Linked DNA regions of Homo sapiens. The protein of the gene in region 1 interacts with the protein of each later gene in a pairwise test. Each region holds a gene or a part of one and is shown in the gene's direction. Other genes may lie near its edges. The genes, in order: OPRM1, CYB561, CCDC167, SLC30A2, MAL, SIAH2 and CLDN10.

The links.
Region 2: the proteins of OPRM1 (region 1) and CYB561 interact in binary tests that used the Homo sapiens proteins (3 or more experiments, as listed by UniProt).
Region 3: the proteins of OPRM1 (region 1) and CCDC167 interact in binary tests that used the Homo sapiens proteins (3 or more experiments, as listed by UniProt).
Region 4: the proteins of OPRM1 (region 1) and SLC30A2 interact in binary tests that used the Homo sapiens proteins (3 or more experiments, as listed by UniProt).
Region 5: the proteins of OPRM1 (region 1) and MAL interact in binary tests that used the Homo sapiens proteins (3 or more experiments, as listed by UniProt).
Region 6: the proteins of OPRM1 (region 1) and SIAH2 interact in binary tests that used the Homo sapiens proteins (3 or more experiments, as listed by UniProt).
Region 7: the proteins of OPRM1 (region 1) and CLDN10 interact in binary tests that used the Homo sapiens proteins (3 or more experiments, as listed by UniProt).

Annotation. Positions count from the first base shown.
Region 1 is NC_000006.12:154,045,740-154,049,239, forward strand, and holds part of OPRM1 (mu-type opioid receptor), read left to right. Parts: intron 1-3,500. UniProt on the Homo sapiens protein: Receptor for endogenous opioids such as beta-endorphin and endomorphin. Receptor for natural and synthetic opioids including morphine, heroin, DAMGO, fentanyl, etorphine, buprenorphin and methadone.
Region 2 is NC_000017.11:63,439,807-63,443,306, reverse strand, and holds part of CYB561 (transmembrane ascorbate-dependent reductase CYB561), read left to right. Parts: intron 1-2,479; exon of another isoform or gene 2,480-2,580; intron 2,581-3,039; exon of another isoform or gene 3,040-3,107; coding exon of another isoform or gene 3,108-3,115; intron 3,116-3,500. UniProt on the Homo sapiens protein: Transmembrane reductase that uses ascorbate as an electron donor in the cytoplasm and transfers electrons across membranes to reduce monodehydro-L-ascorbate radical in the lumen of secretory vesicles.
Region 3 is NC_000006.12:37,489,894-37,493,393, reverse strand, and holds part of CCDC167 (coiled-coil domain-containing protein 167), read left to right. Parts: intron 1-3,500.
Region 4 is NC_000001.11:26,043,319-26,047,413, reverse strand, and holds the start of SLC30A2 (proton-coupled zinc antiporter SLC30A2), read left to right. Parts: upstream 1-1,295; 5' UTR 1,296-1,517; coding exon 1,518-1,567; intron 1,568-2,196; coding exon 2,197-2,417; intron 2,418-2,969; coding exon 2,970-3,116; intron 3,117-3,862; coding exon 3,863-4,016; intron 4,017-4,095.
Region 5 is NC_000002.12:95,042,708-95,046,207, forward strand, and holds part of MAL (myelin and lymphocyte protein), read left to right. Parts: intron 1-3,177; exon of another isoform or gene 3,178-3,440; intron 3,441-3,500. UniProt on the Homo sapiens protein: May be involved in vesicular trafficking from the Golgi apparatus to the cell membrane. Plays a role in the maintenance of the myelin sheath, and in axon-glia and glia-glia interactions.
Region 6 is NC_000003.12:150,743,398-150,746,169, reverse strand, and holds part of SIAH2 (E3 ubiquitin-protein ligase SIAH2), read left to right. Parts: intron 1-2,772. UniProt on the Homo sapiens protein: E3 ubiquitin-protein ligase that mediates ubiquitination and subsequent proteasomal degradation of target proteins.
Region 7 is NC_000013.11:95,555,720-95,559,219, forward strand, and holds part of CLDN10 (claudin-10), read left to right. Parts: exon of another isoform or gene 1-205; intron 206-1,779; exon of another isoform or gene 1,780-1,859; coding exon of another isoform or gene 1,860-1,905; intron 1,906-3,500. UniProt on the Homo sapiens protein: Forms paracellular channels: polymerizes in tight junction strands with cation- and anion-selective channels through the strands, conveying epithelial permeability in a process known as paracellular tight junction permeability.

The DNA of each region.
Region 1 (3,500 bases):
TCTACTGGAGTAATTGCCCTCCATAGGAATCAGCCTGGCACTCACAAAGGCACTATTTGGAAGTTCAGGAAAGTTCCCTTGACCAGGAAATGGAAGCCTGTGGAAAAATGCTGCCCTTGCTCCCCTCTCTCCTGAGGTGTACAATTCTGAGGTGCCAACTACAAGGCACATCAGAAGGCCCCGCCCACATTGTGACCGTCTCAAAAACATGCCTCGTTTTCCTCTTCCCTGGTTTACTCTTCTAGTTTCCCACTCCTTGCCAAGCAACCACTTTTCAAAATGGTTCACCTTCACACAAGGTCGTATCTCACACTCTGCTGAATATCCTTCCTGTTATTTTATAATTGGTGACTATACGTTAGCACAGTAAAATCTGTTTAATAAATAGAGCTCTTACAGACCTATCAATAAAGGTTTTCTCTTAACTATCAAAAACTCGTAAGAAAAATTCTGATAGGCAGCACCAGTTAGAACTACCAAGAGAGTTCAGAAGCTAAGCTTTTCCTTCCATTTTTGTTCCTGCCTTGGGATTTAGGAAAGGCTTTTTTGGGTAGGTTTGGCTGAATGGAGAGAGAGTGGGCACCAGTCATGTCCAGTGTTCAGTTTACTTCTTCTTGAGCTCAGGATAATAGGAGCAGAATTGTGTGTGCCATGTAAAGGAAATAAAGCCTCCTGTGCCTTCTGGCAAATTATCTGAGGGTATAAGAAAACAAACAAACAAAAAATCCTGCCACTCCCTTTTCCATTAATTTCATGTTATATAGTAACGTTAAGAGTATCTTGTGATTAATTGAGCTCAAGAAAATTTCAGTCTTCAAAAGTGAGCTGAAGCATCAAATGCAGGAAACGTCATATACAACAAGCATCATATACTGAGCTTACCAAGCAACTCCTTTCTTTACCCATCCTTTCTTGCCTCAGGTAACTTTTTTTCTTTCCCCATCAATTTCTCAGATACAAATTTAGAAAGGAAGAACAGCAAGGAAGAGAAACCTTGCCCTGGCTCAGGGCCCCAAGTGTCAGTTGTGGCTCGACTTCAAGGCACTCTGCGCCTCACTCTCCTTATCTGTAAAAAGGTGCGAATTGGACTAAAAAAATCTTAAACGCTTTCTAGTACTAAAATGTCCTATGGCAACTTCAATGACTATTAAGAGCATGTTTTTCCCAGCAATACAATCTGGAGGAAAAGAGGAATCATCCACAAAACTAAACAATCGTGGTTGCCATTCCATCACAGCCCTTTGGATTCTATATAAGCTCAAATAGGTTCTGTCAAAGGGAGAAAGAGTGAGTGTGCTCTGAACTGCCAGGTGTGGTGTTTATGATTAGGACAATAAGGGAAACAGAAAGTTACAGTCAAGCCTTTATTCATATGCTTCGAGAGTACAGGCAAGTGGTTAAGTGGGAAAAGGTGCAACCCCATCATGTTTCATTCCCCCCACCCCCACCCCACAGAAGCCACCAGGTGAGCATCACATGTTTGAGCAGAAATGCAGGAAGGAGAGGGAAAAGTCATCTTCTTACTGCACTGGGAGGCCCAAGCAAAAGGTCCTGCTGTTTTGTGTACCTGAGGGCCTGGGTGCAAGATGGGGAAAGACAAGGAATGAAAAACAGTGAGTCAGAGTATGTGCTGCCTCCTTAAGGGTTAGGAACGCATAACCTAAAAGCGTGACTGGCAAAGGTGGAGCGTGGGCAAAATTCTCTCTCTCTCTCTCTCTCTCTCTCTCTGTCTCTCATTCTCTGTTTAATTTTTAGGAGATGGTTTTAATATTTGCCTTTAGGTATTAGTCCTATCCTGGATGTTGTATTCCAAATCTGATGCAAAGAGGTTCCACCAAATCTAATCAAGTGAACTTTCGTAAACCAATGGATAGGGCTTTCCCATAAGATGAAGTGTGTGATGGGTTTAAATGAGAGAGAGATCATTCTGTTCTGGATATGTGTCTGTCCAGGCAAAAATGTTGTTAAGTACAATTTTTGTTTGTTTGTTTTTTGTTTGTTTTAAATAATATGTTAGCTTATGCACTGTATGTAAGTAGGTGTCTTCGTGTGTTCAGGCTGCTATAACAAAGTACCATAGCCTGGGTGGCTTACAAACTACAGAAATTTACTCTTACAGTGCTGGAGGCTTGAGGAGTTCATGATGAAAGCACCAGCAGATTCTGCATTTGCTGAGGACCTTCTTGCAGAGACAACTAACTTCTCCCCATTTCTCCACAAGGCAAAGAGGCAAGGAAGCTCTCTAGGGCCTCTTTCATAAGGGCATTAATAGTGTTCATAATGGCTCTGCTCTCATGACCTAATCACCTCCCAAAGGCCCCACCTCCAAATACCATCACACTGGGGAATAGGTTTTCAACATGTGAATTTGAGGGGAACACATTCAGTTTACAGTAGGTGTCCTAAGTGATTCAAATATTAACCACTCATATTCACTGAAAACCATTAGTGTGATTTAAATTAACGTTTACGTAAATTAGGCCAACCTGATTCCTTCACTATCTTCCAATATGCTTCATGTTTATCTCTTCTATACTGTTTCCTTTATTTTTCTTTCTCTCTGTTTTCCTGTAACGTATCTCTCATTCTTTTCCTATCAAAATGTTTCTTGTTCTTCAAGTATCAACTTAAATCCATCCTTTCTTACAGCCTCTCCAAAGTACTCCTACAACCAATTTCCCTGCAATATAACCCAAAATACATGCTACCATTGTTAAAAAAAAATTATGCATTTTCTCATGGCCTTATAAAATGTCACTTGATAAAACTTAAAGACTTGAACTATATCTATCTCTTTGTGTTTAGGTGAGAAATCCAACATTCAAAGTTGACCAACAGAACTGAATATCTTCAAAATACTGTACAATTCTAAGCTATTAGCAATTCAGATGTACCTCAAATTATTCAAGTATAAAATCTAATTTAAATAATTTTCTCAATTCACTTTGTTCATGCATATTTAGCTTTTATCACTTGAGTCATGAAAAGTGATCTGTACCATAGATACATATTAGCAAATCATAAATTCAAATACAAACACATACATGTCTATATATGCATATATTCCTGAGTTTACAAACTTTAAAAAGGGAATATATGGTTACTCTTATAATAAAAACTCAGAAAGTAAAATTTGAAGAAGTAAAAACATAAAAAGTTAATATAGTCAATTCCCATTATTCATGATAGTTATGGTCCATAAAGTCATTATGACTACAGAATTCGTGAGTACTGAAGCTTTGCTTCTAGGGGATATATAGGGCAGGTTCCTGTGAGCCTCTGATTATAAAATTTTCATCAGCTAATGCATTCGTAACCTTGTTTTATGTGTGTTTCTGTTTAAAGACGCTTTATTTAATATATAGCTGATTCACTAACGTTGAACTCATGGTTAACAGCACTATAAATCATGCCTGAACAAAGCTTCTGTAACACAAGTACTTTCCTCATAAGCCACATCACAGTCTTCTTGGCTTAGGGACACTAAGCAGAACTTCCAC
Region 2 (3,500 bases), on another chromosome or scaffold:
CAGGGCCTGGTGTCTCTGCATGCACCAGGGCTTAGTGCCATGCTGGTACAAGCGTGGGGAGGATGCAGGAGGACTGGCATGGGATGGGGAGCACTGCCTGGGAAGCCCCTTCTTCCTGGGGCTACTGGGGTGCTAAGAAAGTACCCTAATAGCTCACACCACACTTTGCTTTCTCCTTCATCACATGCTAGGACGCTCTAGGGCAATTGAGCTGTTTTCCCCTTCACCCATCAAGAAGAGATATCGGCCTTTCCGCAGTCACAGTCTTTCCTAACTCAATTCAAACTCTGCTGTTGATAAGGAGGGCTGTAGCCAGCCCAGGCTGCCCGCTTCCCAGCCTCCCCTGCTCCGCCTTCCGCCCCCGAGGCTGTGCACCATGTGCAGTGTCTGGTCCCCAATAATGAGATTAGTCTTGGTTGCCTTTTAATAAAACGCAGTGGGCACCGGGAGGGAGAGCGATGCTTGGCTCAGTGAAGATCTGCGGGTCATGCTGTCCCTAATGCGCTGATTGCATTAAGTGGATTCTGGCTGCAGGTAGGGTGAGTGGGTGGGGACGAGGGTGACTCTCACAGCTCTAAGATCCAGAAACTGCCAGAGATCTGTCACCCTCATCCTGAGCTGTCACAGAGGAAGGCAAGTGACTGTGTGAGGGGCTACGTGAGCTCCCTCTGGTTGCAAGGTTCTGGTCTGCAGGGCAGTGGAGCCCTTGGGGGTGGGGAGTGGCAGCTTCCAGGCCTTGAAGCTGCTGCCCACAGTTCTGCTCTGAGAACACAGAGGGCCCAAGAACAGCCGGTGTCCCAGGGCTGCCCAGTGAGGAGGGAAGAGCGAGAGAGTATTCTTGCTGTCAAGACTGGGAAATGAGGGCCACGATTCAAAGCCTTGCTTCCTAGGGAGAAATCTCACCCAATGTCCAGGTTTGCAAATGCAGCAGACACATTTGTGGGTGGGTCAGATTCTGTCCAGAGATACCAGAATGTCTATCCCTGTACACCCCCACCTCTGGCATGGGACAGCCCTTCCCTGCACACAAATGGGTTATCAATTATGTCCAATGAATGGCCTCACGAGAGTCCTGTTGCGGAAGGGATCTTCCGCTTATCTCCTGTAAAGCACAGAGCCACGCTCAGAACCTACGGACTGTGGTCGCCTGCAGGCCAGCCATGGGCTTTCCTTTCATCCTTACACTTAGATTTTGAAGCCTCGCCTTTGAATCAGAAGCAGGCTGCTGTCATTCCAGAGGCCGCTGTTCATCTCTGGCTTCCTCCCAGATGCCCAGGTGCCCCGGGTGCCTGGGCTGCCTAGGCCAGGGCACCCGCCTTAGGAGCAAATGGAAATGCATCTTCCTCGGCTTGTTTGCCCTCCTGTAACCCCTTCCCTCTTGCCTTCGGTCAGGGCCTGCTGTCTTGCACGCACCAGTGCTTAGTGCCATGGTGGAACCGAGGCGGGGAGGACGCAGGAGGACTGGCACAGGAGGGGGGGCACCGCCCGGGAGCTTCCCCTGCGTCAAAGCAGCTTCCTCAGTGAGCTCCAACACAGACCCTTGCTGGCCTCAGTCTCTGGAAAGACTGACAGCACCACCCTAGTTCCTGGGCCTTGGAAAGGCCAAAGCCACGAGCAGGCAGCCACTGTTCGGCAGGAGAGCTAGAGATGCTATTGCCCACAGACATCAAAGCAGGGGTGCCGTCTTCCGTGTGCATGCTGGGACGGGTCTTGGAGGCCCAGATTAGCTCCTGGCTTGAACTTGTACCACCCTTACCTGAAAATTGGGTCTGTACCAAAGCTCATCTGCACGCCCCTTTAGGGCAGGGACCAGGCCCCCTCTGTGTGGCCCTAGCACCTGGCCAAGTGCAGGTGGCTGCGGGTTGAGTTGAGCTGCTATTTGCTGATGGGAATTTGGGGGCCTGTCGCTTGTCCTCTTTGAGCCTCCATTTCCTGGCCTGTCAAATTGGGGCAATGCTCCTGTTATCCACACAGTGTCATTTAAGGGTGACATTAGAGATGGCATGAAGTGCCCAGCACAGAGCAGGTGCTCACAGGCTGTTGGGTCCCCACCCTACTGACACACCAAGCACACGTCTGCCCTGCCATGGTGGGGAGCAAACAATGTTATGGTTCCGACTCCCCGGGAGGCCAGGCCGGGCATTTCACTGTAGGATGTTGAAGCCGCAGGCAGTCGTCGCTGCGAGAAGAGAGCCTGGCTCTGATGTCCACTGTCTTCCAGGGAGCCTGGTGGGAAGGAAGGAGTGGGCAGCGGCCCCTCGCTCTGCGGGCCTCTCCTGCCCTTTGTACTCCACGAGGTGTGAGGAAGTTGCCGGGTCACCCAGCAGAGGGAGAGGTGATGTCCCCTCTGTTCTTCCTAATTTGTAGCTAATCAGATTCTGCCTGCAGCCAGGCTCTCTGGGGATGAATCTAATAAAGGAGGCGGCGACCTGGAGAGGAGGACAGACAACAAGTGACCAGGGGGGACAGCACTTCTTTCAGTACATTTTCCTGTTAGACTCGGGGTATTAGAGACCCAAAGATACCCAAGGAGGAGTGAGAGCGTCCCTGCCTTCGAGGAGCAGACAGGGCACCGCGAGGGTAAGGAGGCTCCGGGAGAGCCTGGGGACAGAGTGATCTGCGCACCGCGGTGCCTGAGGAGTGGAGGCAGGGGTGTGGGCCCACAGCAGGGAGCCAGGCTGGGCCATGTCCTTGGATTCTGTGAGCCCAGGCGTCTCCTCTAGAGGGCCTAGCAGGAACAGTGGGGGCTGCAGATGGAAACGGGCAGGATCATGCCATGCAGTTGGCATTTCACTGGCACTCGGGGGCACTTACGCAGGGGACAGCATGATGTTGGGAGCTGGCTTTGTCCCTGGCATGTCTGTCACGTTGAAGAGGGAGAAGCTGCAGGCCCTGACTTGGGTGGGGCAGTGAGGATGCTCAGGAGGGAAGTGAGGGGAGGGGTGCCAGCATGCGGCGGCCTGGGCAGCCTTCTGTGGAGGAGCTGAGGTGTCACCTGGGCCCGGAAGAAGGGCAGCCCTGCTAGCTAGTGGGGAGGGCATGAGAGAACTTGGCGACGATGGGAGAGAAGGTGACTTGGGACGAGCTGGGTTTGAAGCGTCTGTGGGATGTCCAGGTAGAGATGAGTAGTGAACCGTCAGAAATGGGGCTTGAATTTGGGGTGGCGGGGACAGAACTGATACCCGTGTAGGTGACAGATAAGGACAGAGGCAGGAGTTCCAAAAATAGGATTTATTGTTGGCTGGGGCTTCTGGAATCCCGTATTCCCGTCCACCCTGGGAATGTGGATTGGAGCTATGTTTCTGGGAGATGATTTGATGGAATGTGTCAGAAGTCTAAAACAGAACCTAGCCCTTGTTTCAGGATTCCCTGCAGAGAAGTTTGCAGATGACCACATCCTGTTGTTTATTTGGTGGAAAACTGAAATCGAAAGCTAGCTAAATGCTGAACAATGGGAACTAGTTGGCTAAAAAATGGCCGTGCAATGCAAGAGTGTGAGG
Region 3 (3,500 bases), about 120 Mb from region 1:
CTTGAAAAGTGCTTTGAGCCTTTCAGCGATGAACAAGCTTTTGCTAGTTTATCAAAAAATAGATATCGGGGGGAAAGAAGACAAAACAAACCCCACACCACCTTCCGGCCCAGGGACAGCTGGCATCTTCGGGCGCGGACTGGCTCGGGCGCTAACTTGCAAGGCTGGCTCGGCCTCCGTCTCCTCGCGGGAAGGCGTCGGGACTCGCGTGGGCTGCAGCGGTTCCCTCGCCTTTCTGACCTGGCATGGGGGTGTGTCCAGGCGAGCGACAAGCCCCTAGGCTCTCCCTGCTCTTCCTGAAAATTGTTCATTGATTAAAAACTGGGAAGGTCTGCCGTCTTCAGCTGCACAACCTGCGAGAGAAATCCTTACAGGGCCTGTTGATGTGGGGAGCCATGGGCGGAGGTTTTTCTGCCCCCACAGAGCTCTGTGAGCCGCCTCCACAGAAAAACATCCCTTAAACGATGTGGGGATAATGGGCCCCTTGGGGTTTGAGGCTTGTCACCTGGAAAATTGAGGCCTAAGAACCCCGTGTGACTTGCTGTGGAGCCTGAAGGCTCCAAATGGAAAGCCCCTGCACTCTTGCCAGAGACCATCTGGGCAGGCACTTGGCTGCTTTACCCATTATAATAAATGTCCTGGGGTCTCCTGACGTGTGAAAATGAGTGAATTTTCAAAAATCCAGTTCCCAGGCTGCTGGGGCTGGAGATGAAACAGCTGACACCACTCTCCAGGCTGTGAATTAGCAAGTGAAAGGGAAGGCTTCGGTACTGCTGGGGAAAGAAGGGTTTATCAGGCCCAAGTAGCCCACCTTTTTCCGTCTCCAAACTGGATCTGTTTTGTGTGAATTTTGGAGGATGCTTTGACAGTCGAGGTGATCTGGGGCAAAATGCCTGGGATGTTTGTGAAGCTCATTGAGTTGGCCCAGTGTAAGGGCAGACGCTGGGCTCCTGTCTCCTCTGTCTCAACAAACAAATTTCAATGAGGGCTTTCCCTCACAGAGAGTATCTGTTATGTAGACAGAAACTGAGCAGAGCCTTGTACAAGATTATTCCGAGTAGAGAATCTGTTGAAGCCAGATCAGCAAGCTTAGATGGGCTTCAGCTGGGATGTGGAATGACTGTTCTGCAGAACTCTTGTCATGAATGTTTTCATGAGGGATTTTGGAGAAAGAGCTTGAAGTGGTGGAAAGAGCATAAGCCCTGAAGCAGAAAAACCCAGATTCAGGCTTCAATTCTGCCCCTTCCCAGTTACACGACCTTGGGCAAGGTGCTGAAAACCTCTGCAAGGGAGCTTGCACCTCTGTAAGATGGAGATGGGCCCTTCCTTGCAGGGCGGTTGCAGACACAGGAAGCTGCCCACAACCTGCCCAGCTCCAGGGGTAAGGTGTGGAGGTTGTGCCCAGGAGCTAGGAGTCCCTCAGAGCTGATGAGCGCTGCCTTCTCCATGTGGCATGGTGGTTAAGGGCACAGACGTGGCTGCCCAGCTCCCGGACTTAATGCCTGTGTGACCCTGGACAGTTACCTATGTCTGAGTCCCCTCATCTGTCAAATGTGGATGCTGATAATACTGCCCACCTCACAGGGTTCTTGCGAGCATTATGTGAGTTAATCGGTGTAAAGCATGTAGGTCAGTGCCTGGCACACAGCACAGACTACAGAAGTGTTGCTGCTGCTGTCACTGTTGTGGTTCCATTTTGCTGGGACTTTTGGTTTCCAGAGGCTGCTTACACTCATGCTGTCATGCAGACACTGGAGACTCTGTGACTTGGCTCGGCTCAGCTACCCTGGCACCACGCTCTTTATTGGAAGGTCTGAGTGCCCAGTAAGGACCTGTCCAGCCAGGTGCAGTGTATGCCCCATTACCACTGCCTGACCCTGTAGCAAACCTGTCACTCGCTGGCCAGAAGCTCCCAAGAGTAAAGCCGGAGAGACAGCAAACAGCTTCCTAAATCAGAAAGCAGAGTGGCCTGTGTAGCCCAGCACCAGGCCCCGGGGGTGCCTTCTGCCCTTTCCCAGAAACAGGTCTGGCCCTAGACAGTGGTTCATTAGGGAGTGGGCAGAGAGCCACCTCCCCGGCTGTCTAGATGCTCTGTGGGAACACCATTCAGTAGGAGAATAGAGTGAACGGTAGCCTGTGGCTCGAACTGTCTCGTGCTTGTTGGCAGAAAAGCTGCATATGAGGCCCCCAACAGCAGCTAGCCGTGGAGCTGGCACCCCATCAGCTGACCTGGCCAGGATGCTGGGGCAGTTATCTGTGCATGAGCTGGCACGAAATTCCCTGCCCCCAGTGAGGCCTCCGTGGGGCTCTGATTCTGAGAGGGCCTACACTCCTGAAAAGATGCCTCGCGGGGATTTCACACGAATTTTACAGTTTCTCTTAACACAGTGGTTTTATGGCATATAGGACCCCAGGGAGACTTCCTTAAAGCTCCCAGAATAAGGTGATATTCCCCAAGTCAGGCTGCAGAGGGGAGTTTGCTTATCTGCCTGGGGGCTGCTGAACTCCAGGCCCGGGTGCTTGGAGCTGCATCTGTCTGATGGGCTCTCAGGGAGGCTGCAGGAAGAGTCCCTGCCCCTGCCGCTGGGCATGAAGAAGCCCTTTCTGCTCTTGGCACCTGCCAGCAGGATTGACGGCCCTACTTGGCTAGGGCCTTGTCCCCAGCACCCCTCAGGCCTACAACACAGCCTCTGCAGCCTTGACTGCTGGGCTGACTTTAGATCTTCTCATTCTTCTGCACAGAACACCCCCTCTGTGGAGGGCCTTTGGTCTCATGGGTCTCCTCGCTGAGCTCACTCCTTCACCCAGCAGGCCTCAATTCCCTGCCCCAGGCTCTGATACTGAGAAGCAGCAGTTCTCAGTAATTTAGGCAGCATCACTACGGGGCTTTTCTGTTAAAAGAACGGACTTGTTGGGTCCCACTCCCTAAGGCCTCCCCTGGGGCCTTTCCCACCTGTCTACCTGAGGGATGCTCCTTCTCCATTCCCTGCCTCATATGCCTCTTTTTCCTTCCTCCTCCCCTCTTCCTTTGTGCTCTGTGTCTCCCCTGCCTAGGCAGACTCCCCAGCCATCCCCCCAGGCAGTTTTTAGCCACTGCTGGTCTCTGGGTAAAGAACAGACTTTCCCCAGGACACCCTTCACACTCTCCAACCTGTTCCTTGGGCCCCTGGACCGCTCACACAGGGCTTCACACAGCGCCTCCCCAGGGCTCAGGCTGGGCCAGATGCCAGGAAGCAGTGTGCTGGCTGACAGTGGGTTCATACCATCGCCTCTCTTACTTCCTGGGGTCCCCAAAGCCCCTGCAGATCGCAGCCCTGTGCCCCCTGCTGACTCATCTCAGTGACTGGGACACAGTGCTTTTTCCCCATGTAAAAATTGACCTTGGTTTTCTGAGTGTAAATATAATGCACGGGTGGTTCTTAATGTTATTGTACAGCAGGGGGCACCTGCTCTCTGCCCCCACACTGTGCCGTCTAGGTCTCTGCCTTGGCTGTCTCTAC
Region 4 (4,095 bases), on another chromosome or scaffold:
GGTAATGCTGAGCCTGCTGGTGCTCAGAGTAGACAGACCTGGAGAAAACCAGGGTGTCTGAGGTTTTCCAGAAGAAAACCAGAGTCCAGAGAAGCAGAGAGGCACTCAGTGAGGACCCAAGCAGAGCGGGTGCACCTCACATCCTCACTCCTGGCACCCCGTCTCCTACAAGATGAGAGACTGAAAGAGCCCCTTCCTGTCCCCAGTGGTGTGGGCAAGAGGCCTGCACCTCTGACTCTTGGCTCTGTGAAAGGCCATACCCACCAAGCCTATGGTCCTAGCGACAAAGGGTGCTGGGGAGACGAATTGACCAGACAGGGAGGTCTCCAGCAGCTTCTTTCTACACAGAGGGCACCTGTCAGAGGCCAGCGTGGGGGCCACAGGCTCCCCAATCCCCAAGAACCGCCAGGGAAGGAGGCTGCTTCAAGTGGGTGGGGCACCAAGCTGGCCAGGAAGGACAGGGCTTCTCCCAGCGGTACCAACACGGTGGCACCTCCGGCCTGCATCTCCCAGGCTTGCTTGTCAGGCTTCCTGGGGCTCCCAGGAGCCGCTGCGGGGGAGGGGAGAAGGGGTGGCAGCAGTGGCAGTGGTCGTCTCTGCTCCGATGGTGACTGCCGATGACACTGTTCTCTGTGCGGGTGGAGACAAAGCCGGCCACTCCAGATTCTCCTGCGCGCAGGAGAGGAGGAGCTGGCGCTGCTTCAGTGGCGAGGATGGGTCGATCAGTCCCAGCCGGTCCTAGGGAGAGACACTGCCCCAGCCTGAGGGCGGCGCAGCCCACCCCACCCCAGGACCCTCCTAGCAGGAGGACAGGAACGCAAGCCGACCTCGGGGGGTCTCCGGCCTGAGAGGGGAACATGATCAAGCCCAGGGCAGCCGCCAGTCGGAGGGGGCAGACGCGGCCCCAGTAGCCTCTGGAGACCCTCTTCCGAGGCAAGGAGCCACATTCCTGCCGTCGGGACCACCAAAGCGGATTTCTACAAACTAAAGTCGAGAACTTTTCGGCGGCGAGGCGGCGCACCCCGCGCGGGAGAGGGGGCGCAGGCGTCACCCCGTCCTCACTCAGCAACACCCGGCGCCGCGCCGGGCGAAGGCTGGCAAACTTCTCGCGGCCGGCAGGTGGGCTCCGCGGGCCCCATGGGCGCAGGCACAGGTGTGCGGGGCCACAGCCGGGCCTTTTGCAGCCGGCGACCGCCCCCCCTTCCCCGCGGGCTTTTGCACACGACGCGCCGACGGCAGCTTCACACGGGTTGGCGAGGGCCGGATAAAGCCGGCGGCCGCGGGGCGCAGCGGCTGACCCGAGACACGGGAGCGCTTGGCACGCGGAGCCAGAGCCGGAGCTGCAGCCGCAGCGGGAGCCGGGGGAGCTCAGGGGCCGCAGGAGCCGGGCCGGAGTGAGCGCACCTCGCGGGGCCCTCGGGGCAGGTGGGTGAGCGCCACCCGGAGTCCCGCGCGCAACTTTCAGGGCGCACTCGGCGGGGCGGCTGCGCGGCTGCCGGGACTCGGCGCGGGACTGCATGGAGGCCAAGGAGAAGCAGCATCTGTTGGACGCCAGGCCGGCAATCCGGTAAGGCGAGAGCCTGGGGACGGGCGGGAATTTTGGCGGCAGCCGACGCACCTCCGCATTTGCCATCCTAGCAGTGGTTGGTTTTGGCTGCGGCTTGAGCTGGGACCATGCAGGAGGGGTGGGGTGAGGTGAGGGAACGAAGATAATGGGCTGTGGCCCAAGGACCGTCTCTCCCTTGGGGCGCAGCCCAGATTCTGACCCCTGCCCGCGGGGGGCCTGGGGCCGGGGGATTGGCGGTTCCCATGCCTGGAGTCCCGCCCCGCCCAGCACTTTGCCCCAGGCAGCCCCGCCCCGGGGAGGCCCTGTGTCCCAAGTGCGCTGGAGGGGGCCTGCTGTTCTCCCAGAGCCTGCGCTCTGTTCCTTCCCCGCGCTCCACTGGACAGCACGCCCCTTGGCCGGTTCCCAGGGTCTTCACCTCCTCTGGCCTCTGAAGGGCCCCGGGCCCCAGGACTCCCATTCCCCTATCATCCCCGTCTGAATACAGGCTTCTCACCTCTGGTTTGTCGAGCTCGGAGCGTCCTTAGCTATTTTTCCCAGTGGACACAAGGCCTCACAGAGAAATGGGACTAGAGTCGGCCCTCCTTACCTCATCTCAGAGCTGAGCGTTCCCTCTCTTCCCCTCTGGCCAGGTCATACACGGGATCTCTGTGGCAGGAAGGGGCTGGCTGGATTCCTCTGCCCCGACCTGGCCTGGACTTGCAGGCCATTGAGCTGGCTGCCCAGAGCAACCATCACTGCCATGCTCAGAAGGGTCCTGACAGTCACTGTGACCCCAAGAAGGGGAAGGCCCAGCGCCAGCTGTATGTAGCCTCTGCCATCTGCCTGTTGTTCATGATCGGAGAAGTCGTTGGTAAGCACTTTTGGGCTAATTAAATGAAGTTGGTGCATGGATAGACTGGATGTTCCCAGCAATACTGACACTAAAAGCCCCAATTACTGAACACACACTACAGTAAGCCTTTATATACACATTATCTGATGCAGGTCTAACAACAACCTGTGTTCTCACATGGGTGACGTTATTCTCCTTACTTTACAGATGATGAAACTGAGGCATGTTCAGGTGAAGTAACTTGCCAAAGATCACGCACAACTCGTAGCTAAGGGAAGGCCTGAATTCCTAGAAGGGAAGAGCATTTACTGAGTATCTGCTATGTTTTCCAGTCCCTATTTGAACTTGATGTGCACATTCACCCTCTAAGTAGATATTGGTGGCCCATTTCACAGAGAGTGGAAGTTGAGGCTCAGAGAGAGTAGGTCACTTGTCACGGTGGTACAGCTCATGGGTAGAGAGATCTTGAGCCCAGAATGTCCTCTTCCAGAGCCTGTGGTCTCCCTGCTGCACACACAGTCTTGGGAGCCAGCTCTCTGGGGGAGCTGATAAGGACCCTCCACCCTGCAGGTGGGTACCTGGCACACAGCTTGGCTGTCATGACTGACGCAGCACACCTGCTCACTGACTTTGCCAGCATGCTCATCAGCCTCTTCTCCCTCTGGATGTCCTCCCGGCCAGCCACCAAGACCATGAACTTTGGCTGGCAGAGAGCTGGTGAGGATCGCGGTTTGGCTGGAGATGGGGTTGAGAGAGAGGGTGGGTTAGAACAGGGGTTCTTAGGTGGCTGTAATGGGTGGATCCCCCCTTCCTCCCCTGAGTGAGGCCAGGAGGGTGATCTGGATGGGGGAAGAGGATGTCAACCATGGCCTCTGTCCTCTGGGAAATCCTAGTCTGATGGGGGAGCCCTGGTCCCAGTCATCCAGGAGCTCTCAGTCTGCAGGGAAGCAAAGTTGACCTTCCTAAGAAGTGCAGTAGCCAAGCTTCAAGAACAAATGACAATGGCATTAACACTGCACATAACTCTGTGGATCAGCTCTGGGGGGAGGGGAAGGCCAGCAAAGGCTGCTGGAAGATATAGGCTTTAACCTCTCTTCCGTTCACCCTGGACTGCATCGTCACCTTCCTCTTTGTGGGAGATGGCCCAGCCTGTCTTCCCCAGAAGCCTCAGTTTACTAGCTGAACAAAAGGCACATACTTTAATAAGTCAGCTTCTTTACATGTACAACCAAAAAGGTGGACTCAGATGATGACTTATTAGTTCCTTCTAGCTCTTACATTCCTAGATATATGAGGGGTGGGGTAAGGGGCAGCCATACCGGCCATACCTTCAGCAGAGCCCAGTGGGACCCAGGCCCTGACTTTGTGTGGGAGGTGGGTGGGGAGGATCCTGAAGGAAGGGGGAAGACTCCTTAGCTCCAGGCCCATGCCAAGGTGGGTGTTGGGGTTGGGTTCTTCCTCAGAGATCTTGGGAGCCCTGGTCTCTGTACTGTCCATCTGGGTCGTGACGGGGGTACTGGTGTACCTGGCTGTGGAGCGGCTGATCTCTGGGGACTATGAAATTGACGGGGGGACCATGCTGATCACGTCGGGCTGCGCTGTGGCTGTGAACATCATGTGAGTGGGGCCCCAGTTTCCCTCGTCTCCCCTCCTCCTCCCGCCTCTCACACCCACACCTATGTCTGCTTTGCGGAAA
Region 5 (3,500 bases), on another chromosome or scaffold:
TTCAAAATAATTGCCTCTTTGCACTGCCACCTGGAGGCTGGGAGCCACCTGGAGTCTCCTTGATGAAAGGAAATGCTTGAACCCTCACATACTCCCTTGCTCTGGACAAATATTTGGCCAGCGGGGTCCTGAGGCCAGGCTGGAACAGATTGCTCTGTGCCCAGGAGTGCCTTAACTCCCTGGTGTGGGTGCCCTTCTTACTCTGTTTGCTCTCTGTACATTTAGTAGGTGGAGCAGGGCAGGAACCAGATTTGACTCATGGTTTACAACAAATCTCAGCTTTGCACACAGCGGGGCTGGAGGCTCACCCTCCCTGGAGCCCCACCTTCTGCTACTCCTTGACCCAAGCCCGGCTGCCCAGCCTTCAGCCTCCAAAGCCCTCACAGCTGCTTCAGCATCCTCTGAGCTTGGCATGTGCCCTTTCTGCCCTCTGGAGAGCCCCTCCCAGTCCTTTGGCCTGGTTAACCAGTTAGGTCCACCTCTCTCTCCAAGGCTCGACTGACCCTATGCACCTGTCCAGGCTGCTCTGCCCACTCGGGGCTGGTTGTCCACCTGCATGTTAAGTGGCTGCTTATGCATCTGTTTCCACTGAGCTGTCAGCCTCCTGCATGAACGACAACTTATTCCCAGGTATTGGTAGTGCTGGGCTCAGTGCCAGAAGCTTCATACTCACATCTGTAGTTTTAGCCAGTTCACACCAGCCCCCAGTGTGGGGAGACTGCTGTGAGTTGCCATTTGCAGAGAGGAAGCTGGGGCCAAGAGGCAGAATCACTTGCTGCAGCGTCCCACAGTGACTTCGGAGGACAGCTCCTCTGAGAACGGGAGTCCCCTGCCAAGGGGAGGGAGCTGGCAGGGCGCCTCTGCATTAGAATTCTCCCAGAGAAGACCGCGGCAAAGGCCTGTGCTCCAAAGGCAAGGGGCATGACTCAGCTGAGGCAACAGCTGTTTCTGTTCCACAGACACCTAGCCGGGAATGAAATCTCTCCTGACTCGGCTGTGCCTTTCCCGTATCCTCCTCTTCTTCTCAGGATTGCTCTTCACCCTCCTCCGCCCTGTCCCCCAGATGGCCCCTGTGACCCTGGGCTCTGCAGTCCTCCCTGGGCATCTCCTGGGCAGTGCTGAGCGGAAGGTCGACCGCCCCACTGCCCATCCCCTGGGAGCAAACCCCTGGCTTTCATGATGTCATCTGTGCTGAGACATCTGTGACTACCTTCACCTTCATATGTTTCTGGGACAGGCAAGGACTGGTGTAAGAGCGTCCCTAGGAACGTGGTTCCTCAGAGGCTTCTGGGTTGGAGGCTCCAGGGACATGAGACACACTCACCCAGGGCCCCCTGAATGGTGGGGTCCAAAAGGGGCACTGTGCAGCTGCAACGGTAGAGATATTCTGTGTAAGTCCCCTTGAGAGAGAATTTCTCACCTGAAGACATTATACTAAATGAAAGAAGTGAGCCACAAAAGTCCATATGTTGAATGATTCCATTCATATGAAAGTTCAAAATATGGAAGTTTGTAGAGATAGAAAGTAGATTAGTGGTTGCTTGGAATGGGGGCAGGGAAGCCACAGCTCATGGGATTTCTTTCCAAGGTGATGACAATGTTCCAAGATTGACTGTGGTGATGGACGCACGTATCTGCGAATATTCTGAAAACCAGGGAATCATACCCTTTCAATGGGGGAACTGCATGGGCTGTGAATTATAGCTCATAAAGCTGTTTAAGAAAAGAAAAAGATAATGTCTCCCCACCATCTCACTATGAAACATACTGCTATAAATATACCATGCAAAGGAAAAAAGTCGGCCTCATTTTTTAAAGGACTCACTTGCAAGGTGATGCCCCCAGAGGCTGGGTGGGGTCCTGAGATCTGTCAGGAGCTGGGGTTAAACCCATAGTGGGCTTTGTTCTATGGACAACTGTGGACAAGGTTCCCACTATAGACTGCAGGAACCTGCGAGCCAGTGTGGGGAGCATGGAATTTCCCAGGGAGCTGGAAAATAGTCTTCATCAGGTTGGTAAAAGCACACACTGGAACAGGGCAGAGTCTGGCCTGACCTCAAGGCCCTCCGCGCAGCTGCCGGAAGCTCAGAGCCCAGGCTGTGGCTGCAGCCAGCAAGGTGCACACAGGAGGCTGTGACCAGCTCTCCACACACTGACTTCCCCTCACTTTTCCTGCCATTGATTCCTCACACCAGTCACATCTTAAGCCACGTGGGAAGAATGGAGTGGAGTGAGATGACTCTGCAGACAGGAGCTGAGGACTACCTTCTCAGATTTGCCATTTCCAGCTGCCATCTGTGCATTAATTTACCTCATATGTATTTTACAGTTAATTTTTCCCAAAATAATGACATTGCAACCATAAGCATAGAAACAATGTCACTATCCGGTTTACCTTTGCCTATCCACGCTATTAGAGAACTCCAGACACCTGGCTCCACCCTGAGCCCTTCTTGCCTTCATCAGAAAAACCAAAGAGAGTAAAGGAGGAGGAAAATCGTTTCCTCACTGTGAAATTCAGTGTTCCTCGATAGCATGTGTATAGGTCACCCGTAAGCGCCTCTGGCCCACGGGGTCCCACTGGGATTCCATAACGGAGTCTCTTCCCAACCATGTGCAACCCAAGCTGCTCCTTTGGGGTTTGGTTCATAAGTGGCTCTAGTTCAGCCACACCCAGGTACCAGGAGACCAAGGCCCGTTAGCTGACTTGGACACCGATGCATGGCTGGATGGGTCTTCTCCTGGTCCCCACCAGTGAGGCAGCTGTGAGCAAGGCAGACCTCAAGCCCACCATCACCTGGTCAGGGAAAGCGCCATGTTATCCCTAACCCAATATACCTGTGTTTGTGCTGAGTGCTACAGAGAAGACGTGCAGGACTCCCTGAGACTGTGTGAACGAGGAAGCAACTTAAATTGGTCCTCCTGGGAGGGTCACGTAGCCACCAGGCAAAAGGCACTTAGGAGAGGGGTTCCCAGGCCAGGGCCTCCCTCTTCCCACTGGATGTGCCCGCTGGATCCTCCTCCTATTTCTCCATGCCACCCTCGCATGCCTCCTGAATCCAAGCCCTGCCTGTACCAATGTGCTCCTGTCCCTCCGTCAGTGCCCGTTATGGAAAAGGCCACATAATCTGTTGAATCTTAAACTCAACTGTGGATGAAATCTACACACACATCTTATTCCATGGTGGTCTGGGCATTTTTATTTAATTGATTTTGCTCCCATTTTTGTAAGATGCACAGTGCATCCCACCGGCCCTGCCACGTGCCTTCAGGCAACCTAAGATCCATCAGCAGAGGACGCTTTCTGGTCAGAGATGCCCACATCTGATTCCTTAGGGACAACTTGGTTTTAATAAATCCAAAGTCTTCATTGCACTGATTTTTCTACCCAAATGCAATTCTCTCCTGATTGCTTCTCAGTCAAGCAGCTCAGAGAACACCTGTGAAGACAGCGGTATCTCTCACCCAGCAGGTGGGCAGCAGGTGCAGGGAGGTGGGGG
Region 6 (2,772 bases), on another chromosome or scaffold:
CACCTGCCGCAGCCTACCCAAGTGCTGAGATTACAGGTGTGAGCAGCGCGCCTGGCCTCCTTGAGGTTTTATCCCCACTGTTTCCTCCACTCACCCTGTGCTAGAACCAGATGGAACAACTCCATCCACAATCCACTTGTCTACAATAAAGCTTTCCTTACCATGTCCTCCTCACCCTGTCCCACCTTGAAATCACCTGTTGCCCTCCTGGTCTTCCTTTACATAGTTGTTAAATTTATTATATGGTCTTTCTCAACTGGAAACACCACAAGGGCAGGATCCACAGCTGATTCCTTCTGTGTGCTCTAGGATAGAGGTTCTCAGCCCTGGAAACTCTTAGAAACCCTTGGAGCTCTTCAAGAAAACACAAGCCCAGGCTGGGCACAGTGGCTCAAGCCTGCAATCCCAGCACTTTGGGAGGCCGTGGCGGGTGGATCACGAGGTCAGGAGATCGAGACCATCCTGGCTAACACGGTGAGACCCCGTCTCTACTAAAAATACAAAAAATTAGCTGGGTGTGGTGGCAGGCACCTGTAGTCCCAGCTACTTGGGAGGCTGAGGCAGGAGAATGGCATGAACCCGGGAGGCGGAGCTTGCAGTGAACCGAGATCGCGCCACTGCACTCCAGCTTGGGTGACAGAGCAAGACTCCATCTCAAAAAAAAAAAAGAAAAGAAAACACAAGCCCAAGGCCAGGGGCCAGTGAGACTTGGCTTTGCTGCTCAGAAGCACCTAGACAGTTTTACATACAGTCTTGGGGAATTCACAAACTACTAAAGTCCTCCCTCGGATCCCTGGATGAGAGCCCCTGATGAAAGTGACAAAACACCCATGGTGCTCTGACATGCCATTCCAGAACAATGCCAAAACTGCTTGAAGTATGAAATGTGGGGTGTGTGTGTGTGTGTGTGTGTGTGTGTGTGTGTGTGTAGGGGGTTAAAATTTAGACTTTAGTCATCATAAAAGTGGCACCAGTTGTTATGAAGACATGAACCTTACCCATGATGGAAAGAGAAGGGATAGATTGCCATGAAAGTTCTGCTTGTTCAGTAAAAGCAGAGTAAGCACCTAAGGCTTTAAAACTATTTATTTAAGTTAATAGAGGATGTAGCAAGATCCTTATGAAAAAACATGAGATCGTTGTCCACACAAATGCAAAGTAATGCCTTTTCTATTTGTGCAGTTTGGGGAGGTTCCCTGTTCTGTATATTTGGGTGGAAAGAAGTGTTGAATATGTGATTTGTAAGGCAAATCAAATAATTCAGAGTATAAATACTCCTACTTGAGTGGGGAAAGTTATAAAATGATTGCCAAGTGATAAATATTTGCTGTAAATGTTGAGTTCGTCATGAATGAGGAGTGGTTTGGGACTTTGGGCAGAGGTGCAGCTGGTACCTTTCTGGGTGCCATTGGCCAAAGTTCATCTCATTCCTGGGCAGCTATGGGGAAAAGTTCGTCTTGAAACATCTTCAGATATTGAGAGCTTGTTTCGAGACTCTGCCAGGCTCTGGGCTATTTCTTGCTATTTTTATTGTGTGTGTGTGTTTTTTTAAACTGGACAGAAATGTCTCACCCATCACTCACAGAAGAACATGAGGAGGCTCTGTATTCCTAGCCACACCCTAGATTTAAAACACAGTTAATAGGGATTTGTTTTTCAGGCCTTATAAAGTAAGGAACACAAAGTATGAATACACATGGATAAATAAATTTGTTTCTCCTGAGTGAGTTTTTTTACAGCCAGGCTTTAGAAATTAGTTCAGAGTTTTAAAAGATGAACAAACAATTCCTATGGGCAAATAAGTAACTGAAATATTTCTGCCAATTTCTGTTAAATATTATAATCCGCTTAGGTATGGGGAAGTGGGGGTTGGAGGATGAGCTACATTTCTTTCTTTAAGCCACTCTCCTTTCCGATTAGGGGAGACTAATCCCCCTGAGAGTGGAGGCTGTCATCCTTGCTTCGGAATCCTCTGAGTGACTGTAACTTAGCGTCTTGTATGGAGAAGTCACATAGTGCATACCATCTGCTTGTTGCTAGTGATAAATTCATCTATGAAGGTTAGAATTTGACCGACTTCAAGTTTAAAAGGGGGATTATTCTATAAAGCAGGGTAGAGAGAAGCAAAAACAGCAGTGGTGCTTTTTTTTTTTTTTAGCAACTGGACATAGCATCTTAGAAAAATGACCTGGCCTTGCCCTTATTTGGTGCCTTCATGTCTCAGTGGAGCAGGGGAATCCAAGTGTAGTTAGCCAGACAGTTCCCCTGCCATTCTGTGCTCCAGGGGTCTAAGGCTGACACCTAGTTTCACCTGAAAAGGTGATTCAGGTTTCTTAATTCTTTACAGAACAGCTTAGTACTCAGGGCAGGTGTCTACTTGTGGGCTGATCTCCATCTGGTATCTAGGAATTAACACTGTCATCCTTGTGAGAGTCTGGAGTAGAAGTTCAGTTCCTCTTGGTGTGGTCTTTTGCCACGGCAGGTATGATTTATCCATTAGGAATGTCATCCCAAGTGCAAGGGAGAAAATGATTTTGTTCTCCTACCCTATTAAGGCAGTGTCTGAGGGGCAGACTGATCATGTCAGCAAACTTGTCTAGTTCTGCTTCCTCCCGGGCCTGTTGTGAGGACCTGACATACCTGACCATGAAATGATGTGCTCTTGAATCTGAGGAAGTGTTGGGGGTCAGCAAGCTTTGAGAGGAGGGTTAGGCCCTTCTCATGTTAACCTCTACTGGCCAGAACCAGACTGACCAGTAGTCTTCTGAGTTA
Region 7 (3,500 bases), on another chromosome or scaffold:
GGGTTAAATCATGCAACTGTGTTTTCCTGTGGAGGGGAGTTGATTCCCCCACCTGCAAGTGGAAGCTTCCAGGGTAGGGGCCCTCTGTTTGTCCTCTACCTTGCATTCCCAGGTCAGCCACATCTGGTGGGTGCTGGTCCTGACATTGCCTTTGGAGAAAGTGGCCATGGTGGCCTGAGTGGAACAGCCCTCCCCTTAAACCCAGGTATGAGCTCTAGATTGGGAAGAGAATCCAGGAAGGGAGAGAGAAGGCTCGTGACTCTTGCCTATCTTGTGTTAGGTAGAAGAACTCTTGGAGTCAAACGACGAGGTCATTATTCTGAATTTCTTTTCTTTTTTTTTTTGAGACAAAGTTTCACTCTGTCCCCCAGGACAGAGTGCCATGGCATGATCTCTGCTCACTGCAACTTCCACCTCCCGGGTTCAAGCAATTCTCCTGCCTCAGCCTCCTGAGTAGCTGGGATTACAGGCACCCACTGCCACACCTGGCTGATTTTTGTATTTTTAGTAGAGACAGGGTTTCACCATGTTGGCCAGGCTGGTCTTGAACTCCTGACCTCAAGTGATCTGCCCGCCTCTGCCTCTCAAAGTGCTGGGATTACAGGCATGAGCCATGCGCCCAGCCCTAAATTTCTTATATAAAGAAATCTCTGATTCCCCTCCCCTAGGGGTATCATTGCCACTTGTTTTCCTTATAAGAAAAATGAGGCCTAGCAAAGCTATATGTCTAGATTTAACGTTATGCCATATTAAGAACCCAGCTCTAATTTCTGCTTAGAATCCATTGTAGTATTATAATATGACGGGATGCTTTGATGACTTTCTTACTGCTCAGCAGACATCCATATTATTCATCCTGTGAAGGAGGTGCTGCCATCCCTGTTTTACAGATGAGAGAACTGAGCCTCAAAGAGATTAGGTCCTATAACCAAGTACATACCTTGGGTAAATAGAAGCACCAGAGGTGAAACTCAGAGTTCCTGCCCTCCCCATACCACTGTTCTCTCAAAGGATTTGCAGAAGTACACAAAGCTACCAGGAAAAGAAAAGCACATTCTTTTTTCCCCCCTAAATCCATCAACTAGCACAGGTGCTATTAGCGAATTGTCTCCACCAAGTGGATGTTTTCGTTTTTTGCTGATTTGCAATTGAAAATAAAGTACACATAATTTGGAAAACACTTAACTTTTAAGGAACACCTTGAAGCTTTCCTCCAACAGAGTTCATTAATTTAAAGTCACTGTATTTTACTATTTGAAAATTTCACAGCTGAATGAGCTTGTGATTTCTGTTTATTGTTAACCCATACTCCTTTCAAAGTACCACTTGAACTTCAGCTGAGTATGATTTTCAGCCAGCTTGTTTTTAGTGTATGCCATCTATTTTTGCTAGTGGGAATGCTTGCCATTTCTCCCAGGAGAACTAACTATAAATTATACTTCAGAGAACTTCTAAATAAATATGTTCATGCCTCAGCACCTTAATGTGTTAATTAGCTATTAACAGTGTCAGTAAATTAGACCTGTCAAAAATAATGGCCTCCTTGACTAGGTTTTTACTAACACTTCTCCTGGTGGTGTTACTTGTAAGTTTTGCCCTCAGGAACTGTTAGAAAGCAAGGCTGTAGAGGTCTGCTTTGCAAAAGATGAACTCTGAAAGGGTTTGTTGGAATCATCTTGGCTCCAATCTGTGGGTGTTGTAAGGACTGGTAGCCTTAGAACACTGAGAATTTACAAATCTCAGGCTTACGAGCAACTCCATTACATTTATGGCTGGCAGGGGAGTTTATCCCCTGCTCTTTGCTCTCCATTTCAGAAAATCTGGCCAATGATCGTCCTTGTAAATTGCCTTCTTTGTGCATGCGCAAAATTAACAAGTTATGGCTGCTGTTCATGCTGGAGAAAGGTACCTCATTTTCCAAATCCGGGTTCTGGTTGGCACAAAAGAAGGACCTGACCAGATCAGAATCTGCCCTGCCCACTTCTCCTCTCATGCTTGTGTCAAGAGACCAAAGTGGGTCCTGCTGCCAATACCAGGGCTGGGACGGGGCATCTCAGAGTGAGAAACTCGGGAAAAATGTTATCAGTGGTGATTACATAAAGTTCAAAGACTACTGTTATTTTCCCTGTTGTATTAAGAATCGAATGGGTTGGCCTGGGATTCTACCCACTGTTTATCATCTGGGAAATGCATTCCGCGTTCTAAATGACCAGATTGTAGAATTTAACCTTTGGTAAATTCCCGACAACTTGCACTTTCTGTTAACAAAGCATGGAAGTAACTAAAGGCAATGCAAATTAGGGTACATGCTAATGTTTTCTGGGAGTATATATAAATGGATGAGTCCCCCATTTTTTTGTTTATTTAATGACTGCAGTCAGAGTCAGCTATAAAACCTCAAAACCATAGATTAAAATGAATTTCACAAAAAGAGCGAAACCACACTGTCCGAGTAGCCCTGGTGGCAAGTGATGAACCAGTTTGGGTTATCCTCACAGGCTCTCTTCAAACTTGCAAGGGACTGACAGGCTTCCCCTCTCTGTCTTGCCTCTACCTGCTGTCTGGGCTCTGGCTGGGGAGCTCGAGGACTGAAGTTTAAAATACAGCTGGTTCAGCATTTGGCAGCGGAGACCCAGATAGCCCTGCAGCACAATGATTGCTATGAAAGAAGCCTTCATTATCCTGTTTTGCTAAAAATAAGTTTGTTTTGCTGTTTTTGATAGCCACGGTGTTAGTGAAATTGTTTTCTGTATGGAAATATTTCACACTACACAATGGAAGGTCACTGTCCTTGCAGTCTGCATTTGTGGGAGTCTAAAGTGTTTACAATTAAGTAGAGCAGCTCCTGTTTGCTCTTCAAAAATGGGTCCAAGGAATAGGATTAAAACTTCAATTTCATTCTTTTCCAAAGAAACACAGACTGGGGCCAGGTGCAGTGGCTCATGCCTTTAAGCCCAGCATTTTGGGAGGCCAAGGCAAGAGGATCGCTTGAGGCCAGGAATTCGAGACTAATCTGGGCATTACAGCGAGACACTGTCTCTATAAAAATTTAAAAATTAGCCATAGGTGGGGGCAAGCGCCTATGGTTTCAGCTACTCAGAAGGCTAAGGCAGGAGGATCTCTTGAACCCAGGAATTTGAGGCTGCAGTGAGCTATGATTATGCCACTTCCCTCCAGCCTGGGTGGCAAAAGTGAGATCCTGTGTTAAAAAAAGAAAAGAAAAAAAGAAACTGAACTGGAGGCCACTAGTATGTACTCCCTAAATTCATGATTATCATGGTCTCGGAATTATTATTTATCATGGCTCTGCTTGAACACCAATAATAAATGACTTATCATATATTGACACATAAGAGGTTTTTTCCAGTTAAAAAGTTTAATTCCAAACGTAAACCTGATGTAGGTATATATGTTTATTTGCTTAGCAGATACTTACTTACACCCGGTATGTGCTACTATCACTATTTTAGATCGAAATATGGCATTGTTTCAGGCTGAAA